2 linked regions of the Homo sapiens genome follow. The protein of the gene in region 2 interacts with the protein of the main gene of each other region in a pairwise test. Each region holds a gene or a part of one and is shown on either strand. Other genes may lie near its edges.

What was found. Proteins that work in one complex are often made in the same cells at the same time.
Region 1: the proteins of KHDRBS3 (region 2) and BAHD1 interact in binary tests that used the Homo sapiens proteins (3 or more experiments, as listed by UniProt).

What each region holds. Positions count from the first base shown.
Region 1 is NC_000015.10:40,439,075-40,442,821, reverse strand, and holds the start of BAHD1 (bromo adjacent homology domain-containing 1 protein), read right to left. Parts: upstream 1,870-3,747; 5' UTR 1,554-1,869; intron 1,413-1,553; exon of another isoform or gene 1,287-1,412; intron 383-1,286; exon of another isoform or gene 1-382.
Region 2 is NC_000008.11:135,460,407-135,464,153, forward strand, and holds part of KHDRBS3 (KH domain-containing, RNA-binding, signal transduction-associated protein 3), read left to right. Parts: intron 1-3,226; exon of another isoform or gene 3,227-3,482; coding exon of another isoform or gene 3,483-3,570; intron 3,571-3,747. UniProt on the Homo sapiens protein: RNA-binding protein that plays a role in the regulation of alternative splicing and influences mRNA splice site selection and exon inclusion. Binds preferentially to the 5'-[AU]UAAA-3' motif in vitro.

The sequences.
Region 1 (3,747 bases), on a different chromosome or scaffold from region 2:
GGAGGAAAGTCTCAGGTGGCACAAAGTAAAAGGACTGGAAAGCTTTTTATTTCATTATTAAATTCCTGCCTGGATTTATAAACTCAGCTTCTCATTTTTCTAAGTGGGTACCTTTGTGGCTAAGGAAAAGTGCTGGAGGCAGCTGCGGAGGGCTGGCGGGAGCCCACGGGGTGGGGTGTCTCTTGTCCTAATCAAACTAGTCTTCTGCACTTCTAACACTGTCGACAATGGGCGACTAGGAGATGTCCCAGGTGGGGTTAGACTTCTGCCTGTAGGCAGACTCTGCTTGTTGAAAAACCCCTCATTCTTGACAGGCTCTACAGCGGCTCACTGGGTCTGTCGCCTCGGTGAGTAGCAACCCCGTCGCCACCAGCCAAGGCACATCATGAGCATACACCCCCACCCCGGCCCCTCGGCCCCCGGCAAGTAGACCCCACTTCCCAGAGCCTCGAGGCCAACAGCGAGCGGCTAGAGCGGCAAGCCAGTGCCGCAGCTCCTCCCGGCGGGCGCCCCGGCCCCCGCAGTCCCCGGGGCAGAGTCCGGCCCCGTCGCCCGCCCCTCGGAGTGGGTGCCTCGGACCCGCTCCCCTCCCCGACGCCACCACCTGCGCCCGCTCCGGCGCCGCCTTTGTCCGGCGCTTCACCGCCAAGCGAGCCCCTCGGGCCCGACCTGACCCGGCCCCCAGCCCCAGAAGAGAGGCGGCGGAGCGAGCAGGGCAAGACCAGGCCGGGCCGCGAGCACAGGGTCCCGCTGTCACTTGGAGGCGGTCTGACAACTTCGATTCCCCCCGCCACACCTCGGACTCGGCCGCCGCCCCGCAAGGTCCCCGCAGGGCCTCCCGCGGCCCACACTCGCTTTTCGAACCGGTCCCCTTCCGTCTTCGGCGCCTCCCTTCCTCTCAGCCCGATCGAGTCGGGTCTACACTACTCCCCCCTGCCGCCCCCGGCCCGGCGCGGCCCTCATCCCCTGCCCCCCATCCAGCAATAACCGGTCAGCTCCCAGCGCGGGAGGGCGCCCCCCACCCTGAGCGGGCGATCCCGCGGCGCCGCCCCCGGCCGCGGCCCCTTGCCTCGGGGACCGCGATGGGGGAGGGGGCGCGGCGGGGGCCTCGCCGCCCGCGCACTCGGAGGCGAGCCGGCTCCGCCGCGGCGAGGAAAGACCGGCGTCCTCCCGCCCTCCGCAGCTCGGGACGCCCGCGCCGCCGCCGCCCGGCCGAGCTGCCACCCTGCGGCCGCCACCCACCCCGCCCCCGGCCTGCAAGGCGGGCGGCCCCCGGGGGCTGTCACCTCGAGGCGCGCCGCGTTCCCCGATGGCGGGACCGTGGTGCCGGACCCAGGGGAGGGAGGTGGCGCGAGCGGGCGGGCGGCCGCACCTGCTTCGCGTCGTCCGTCCGTCCGTCCCTTCCCGGGCTGGCGGGGGCGGTGGCGCGGCGCGCTCGGTGGGGCGCGCTGACGGGCGGCCGGTGCTCTCCCCCTTCGCTCTTCTGCCTACCTCGCTCGCTCCCTCCCTCCAGCTCGCCCCTTCCCCCTCCTCGACCCCGGCCCCTGACTCACCAGAACGGGCGGCGCGGACGGCGCGGCTCTGGGCGCCCGCAGGCCCCGGCCGGGCTGGAATCCGGCGGCTGGAACCCCCCGGGGGCGCTCAATTCCCGGGCTCCACGCTGCTGCGTCAGCGCCTCCTCCTGGGGGCCGGGGCCGGGCGGGCGGAGCGGGGACCGCGGCCGGGCGGGGCCGTCGGGGGGGGCGGGCGCGCCTGGCCGGGGCGGGCGGACGGCGGGGGCCGGACGGGCGGGGCAGGCAGCCGGACGGGCGGGCGGCGGGGGCCGGGCTCCGGGATCCGCTACGCCGCTCGCGGTTCCCCCACAAACTCCCCGAGAGCGGAGCCTCCGCCGCCCTCCTTCCTGCTTCCTCGTCCCCAGCCAATCAGCAGCGCGCCCCTCGGCCAGCTCCGCCAATCAGCCGCCCCGCCCTGCGCTGGCTCCGCCAGCCAATCCGGCCCTCGGCTCCCCCTCCCGGTCTCTGACCAATCAGAACCGTGGGTCGGTCGTCCCAACGCAGGGGGCAGCACGAGGCGGCCGGGGGAGGCGGTGCGGGGAGTGGTGGGGCCTTGGGGGAGGGGTGCCGTGCCAAGGGTGGTGGCAAGGGGTGATTTTCTTTGCCGGCTTCTTGGATTTTTCTCTTCGTCTTCAGAACCTGAGCCCGTATCCCACGGTGACTCGACCCCAATCTCCCAGCTGCTAGCCCCCCCGGAAAAATCTTATCTCCCCCCGCCCTGGCCATCACCCCTCCGCATCCCCTTTCCCCCAAATCCTCCCCAGCACGCGCTGGAGAAAACTGCGGGCCGAGGAACACCCCATCCTCGCCGGAGGCTGCTGCCCCCAGGGCAAAGCTTCAGGAAGACCAGCCGAAAATCAAGCGAGAACAACCCCCCTTTCCTGCAGAAAGGGCCCCAGACTCCTGCAAAAGGGCCCCGACTGCTGAGAAGCCCCTCCCGCCCTTGCCTCATCTTTCCGACTTCCCTGCCTGCCACGTCTCCTTTCCTTTCCAGCAAGGTCGGTCCTGGCTCGGTAACCCCTCACCCGCATCTCTTTTTCCTCTTTCTGCCCTTCACCTACCGCCCCCAACCCCAGCTCCTAATTCACCCTCTTCAGAAGCAGAGTGTGGAGCCCTCATCCATTTCCAGCTGACAGCAGAGCCTGGTCTGTGAGTCCTTGACACCCACACACCCTCTTCCACCACCGCGGGGAACATCAGAGCTCTCCGGGGGAGGGAGAAAGGGGCGGGCAGCCTGACAGGAGCGGCTGGACTCCCTCCCTCGCGTCCCCAAGCTACGGGAGAACCAAGTGTAGACACTTACCTGGCTTCCCCCTAGTCACCAAATGCTGTGGCTCCGTCTCTCACCCCCACAGACGTGCCCTCCCAAGCCCGAGCACGCTCGCGGGGTCAGTGGGGTGGGTGGGCACAGCAGGCTAAGGGCACAGAGAGAGATGGGAAGTCCCTGTTAGGTGCGGGAAGGAGCTGTGTCTTGGGCACCTGGTGGTGCCAGAGCCCGCCTAGGACTTCACTAAGCCCGGGATATGCACACAGTAGGTTCTCGAGAAATGCTGAGTTCACCCCTGAACAAAGCCTCATTCCCAATTCAGGCGGGGGAGGGGAGCTTTAGGAGGTAAAAGGAGCAGCGGCAGAAAGGGTAGTGTCAAGTCACCAGAGCGCTGGAGCAGCCCAGGGAGGGGCTGGGCCCCAGGAACGCCTTGGGCAGAGAGAGGCACCCAGAGTGCTGAGGCTGCCCAGGCAAGCAAGGAAAACCCAGCCTTGGAGTGTGGCCCAGGGGCTTCGGAGGGGCTCCTCCTGCACCACACACAGCGCCCAGCCTTTCCTAGACCTTGGGACTCCAGCGCTCACCCAGGCAGCCTTTTAAGACAATCAGGGCTGCTAGCCAATATGGCTGGGAAACAACCTCCCCCAGAAGCAGTTCCCCATCTGCCTCCAGAGCTGTCCAGGGGGCCCAGACTGTCTTAGCTGTTTGGGGGGACACACTTAAAGGAGGGGCCCCCTCAGCAGGGAAAGTGTGTGAATGGAAGCTAAAAGCTAAAACTGTGGCACGGAAATGTCTCGAAGGTCCAGGTTCTCCCACTGCCACTTCTCCCACCTCCCACCCTTGGGGAAAGCAAAACCCCAAAGCTGTAAAAGTAGGACGCTGAAAGATTTCTCCCCTTCCTGGACAGGACAGAGGTTCCCGGCAGCGCCC
Region 2 (3,747 bases):
GGCAGATGTTCATGTCTTCTCTTTTCAGGAAGGCAGCTGAGGATCCCAGCTATCTAAGCTTTTGGGCAACTGAGATTTAATTTGAAATCTCAGGTCTTCTGTCTCTGAAGAGGTTGTTCTTTCTTATTTTGGCTTCCTAAAATGTTGGAATGAAATACTTCTCACTTGCTAACTTCAGACCCTGCAGAAATCAATATAATTAGTATGATTGTTTCCAACTGACTTAAATGTGTAGGAAATAGTATATATCCTTTAGGAAGTTTATCCTGATTTTTACAGAAAGTTTCTGTCTGCACTTGCCTTCTTTGAAGAAGCAAACATTCACGGTAGATTTATCTTCCAGGATTTTGATGCTGAGGCCAAGAGGCAGTTTTGAATTAAAGCCCTCCTGTGACTAGTGTATTAGTTTAATAATCAATGCATTATGATAATGAAGCAGTTTATAGATGAGGTGTAGTCGTTCTTTAAAAATTCAGTGTTCGTAAAGATTGATCAACTTCCTAACTGAATTACTCTTTTTCTTTCTTGAGCTAGGATGACAATAAGAGATATACTCCTGTCTGGTATACATTGGCTTTTATATTTTTCCAGACTTGTGTTTCATCGTGGGCACTGATTGCTGATTTTATTTTCATTTTACCAGAATAACTGGTTCTCCTCCTCCACCTCCTAAATGAATTTGTTTCCCGAATATTTATTTATTTATTTTTTTGAGACGAAGTTGCCCAGGCTCTGTTGCCCAGGCTAGAGTGCAGTGACACAATCTAGGCTCACCGTAACCTCTGCCTTCTGGGTTTGCGCGATTCTCCCGCCTCAGCCTCCCGAGTAGCTGGGACTGCAGGTGTGCGCCACCATGCCTGGTTAATTTTTGTATTTTTAGTAGAGACGGGGTTTCACTGTGTTGGCCAGGCTGGTCTCGAACTCCTGACCTCGTGATCTGCCTGCCTCAGCCTCCCAAAGTGCTGGGATTACAGGTGTGAGCCACCGTGCCTGGCCTCTGAATTTGTTTCTCTAACAAAATTAGTGGTTAATGTTTATTTGATGTTAAAAGTCAGTCAAAGAAAATAGGCTTTGGGATCCCACTCCGGACCCCGCCTTGGTGCCTGTAGGGTGAATTGACATTGCAATTCTTGCCAAGGAGAGGTTAATTGCAGATGAAAGTGGTGTTGCATGTTTTATATTTGCTAGTAGGGGATGTGCTGACTCTTACTAAAAAACATCTTTAGAAATGTCTTATGCATTATAATTTAATCCAAGTCTCTGATATTGGTTTGGATGGTTTTCAATACAAGCCAAGTAACCATTAAATAAGATTACATAACACTGTATTTTTAATTATCTGATATAATGTATGGATTGGTGGCTGGCTCACTGCCAAGTTACATTTAGTTGTCGTTGATTACAAGAGAAAGTGGAGCTGAGGATTCAAGATTAAGGTGGTCCAGATTTGTGTCTAGGTTGATAAAAGTTTTTTGTTTGTATATCAAAATGGTTTTTATATCAGTTTCTCAAATATTACAATTCTTAGCATTACTTAGAATAAATATGGAGGATAAAAATATATTAAGGAAGGATTATTATTTTATGTACATCTCTTTGTAATCCACAAAACCCAGGGGCTTAAAACTTGATTTTTGGGGACCCCTTTTGGAAAACATTTCGGATTTGCTTGAATGTCACAGACTTGTAAAGTAGAGAGTAAGAATGAGAACTGCAGAACTGTATTTAGGTATGGTGCCTTCATGCTATAGTTTGTGATTTTCTGTTTCATCCAAAGGAGGATGTGATTATTTAGTTTTTAGTTTTTTATTGTTTTTCTTTGTGTTATCAGTTTTTTTTTTTTTTTAAGAAAATGCGATCACTCACAGTGTTAGATATGCCATTTCTGAGTTTTATACAGTGTATTATGATTAAAAGTGACCCAGTGATTGTGAGTTACAGGGTTTTGGTATTGGACATTAGTAACAGGCTTATAGAGAACCTGCCATGCTGGTTCTCTGTGTTGGGTCCCAGGGGTAGGGAGGAAAAACAGTCTGCACTGGTGAGAAGCTCCTGCTCTCCTCTGTGTGCGTTTGAGAATGAATTTTCGGTTTGTAGATGCCCTCTTTCCTAAGGAACATCTTAGTCCTTCAACTATGCTGAAATATTTAATGATTGGATGGCTTAGATTTACTGTTAATAAATCAGCTTGTGGACATTTTTGAGGCACTTGTTGGTACTGGGTCATGTTTGTAATCTCGATACTGGTAACAGCTCAGAGATGGAGAGGTTATTAGCCTAGTTTTTCAGTTGTAGAAACCAAGATTCTGACAGCTAAAGTGACTTGCCCATGGTGACATGCTTATAATAAAATGTCAGAGTGAAGGGTCAAGCTTTGTTCTTTTACAGGTCCATTGTTCTTTTTACCATGTCCTACTGACTCTCAGTAACACTGAGAGTCTAAAGGGCTAAGTTACTGGCCAACCTGTGATGGTATAATTAGTGAATGATAGAAGGAGAATCAAAACCCTGGCTTTTTTATGTGCAGTTTGTTTTTCCTCTAGCCTGTGCTGAATTGAAAGATAAATTATATAGCATCCATTTTCATACTTCATTCTTCACATTTCTGCCCTAAGATAAGTCCTCTGACCTTTTTCAAAATGGGTTGGATTGCCTGTTTTCTGGTGTCACATAACACCTGGTGCTCTTACGGTGTGATCCTCATCACACTGCTTTGTTTGGATCTTTGTCTTTCTTGGTAAAGAGTGAGTTCCTCGGAAGACAGGGCCTGGTCTTTCCTCTGTATCTTCAGCACCTAGCATACGTCTGAGCACAGGGCCCTTGGGAACTCCTGTCTTCATTTCAGTGTTACGTGTTAATTATCATTAAGGGTAGCAGAATCAGAAAGTATATTTGGAATTTAGCAGTCAGTAAAGAGCTTTGCTTCTTACAGCTTTAGAGGACCTGAATTGGAGGTGGGGATGAAGTCAACAGTTCTGCCCATATCAATGAAAGAAGGTTCTGAGTGAAATGCAGGGTTGAACAAGCAGAAAAGCATCCCAGTGCTCTTTAAATGTGGTTGCACAGTAGGGATCCTTCTCTAGGAGATAATGAGAAGATGTTGTCAGATCTGCTTTGAATCAGATGTTTATTTACTTTTATTCTTTCTTAAGGAATTTATGAAATCACTGCACTCTCATCAATTTGCTCTCCTTCTCTAAACTCCTAATGATATTTCTCATGACAGATTAAAAACAGAATTTTGGAAGCCCTAGTCACATGCCAAATAAGGTTTCTTACCTGAGAGAGTTATCCGCAGTTTCAGATGCCAAAGGGAAACTCCGAAAGCCAGAGGAGCGATTGAAACCGCAAATTGAGTGCCAACAGCAACTTTGATATCAAAAGCCCCATTTGCCTGTTGTCACCAGTCCCGCTGAGTGAAGATAGAATGACTTATATCTTCTACCAAAACAATAGAAGGAGAGTGTTCCTTGGCGTTGGGGATGATGATTATAAAAGCCACCAATTTGAGGCTCTTCCGTGCCAGCTGCTTTCTGTGCATTCTCTCCCATCCCCGCAAGATCTTGCAAGGTAGGAGGTTTTATTCCCTGCGTGCCTCCTTTATTTTTTTCAAATGAGGCCTCTAAGGCTCAAAAACACTAAGTAACTTGCCCAGTCAAGGTACACAGCTTATAAGTAGTCAGGCTGAAATTTTAAACCAAGTCTGCAGTATTTTGTTAAGATACTTTAAGAAAAGAGGTAAAAGGA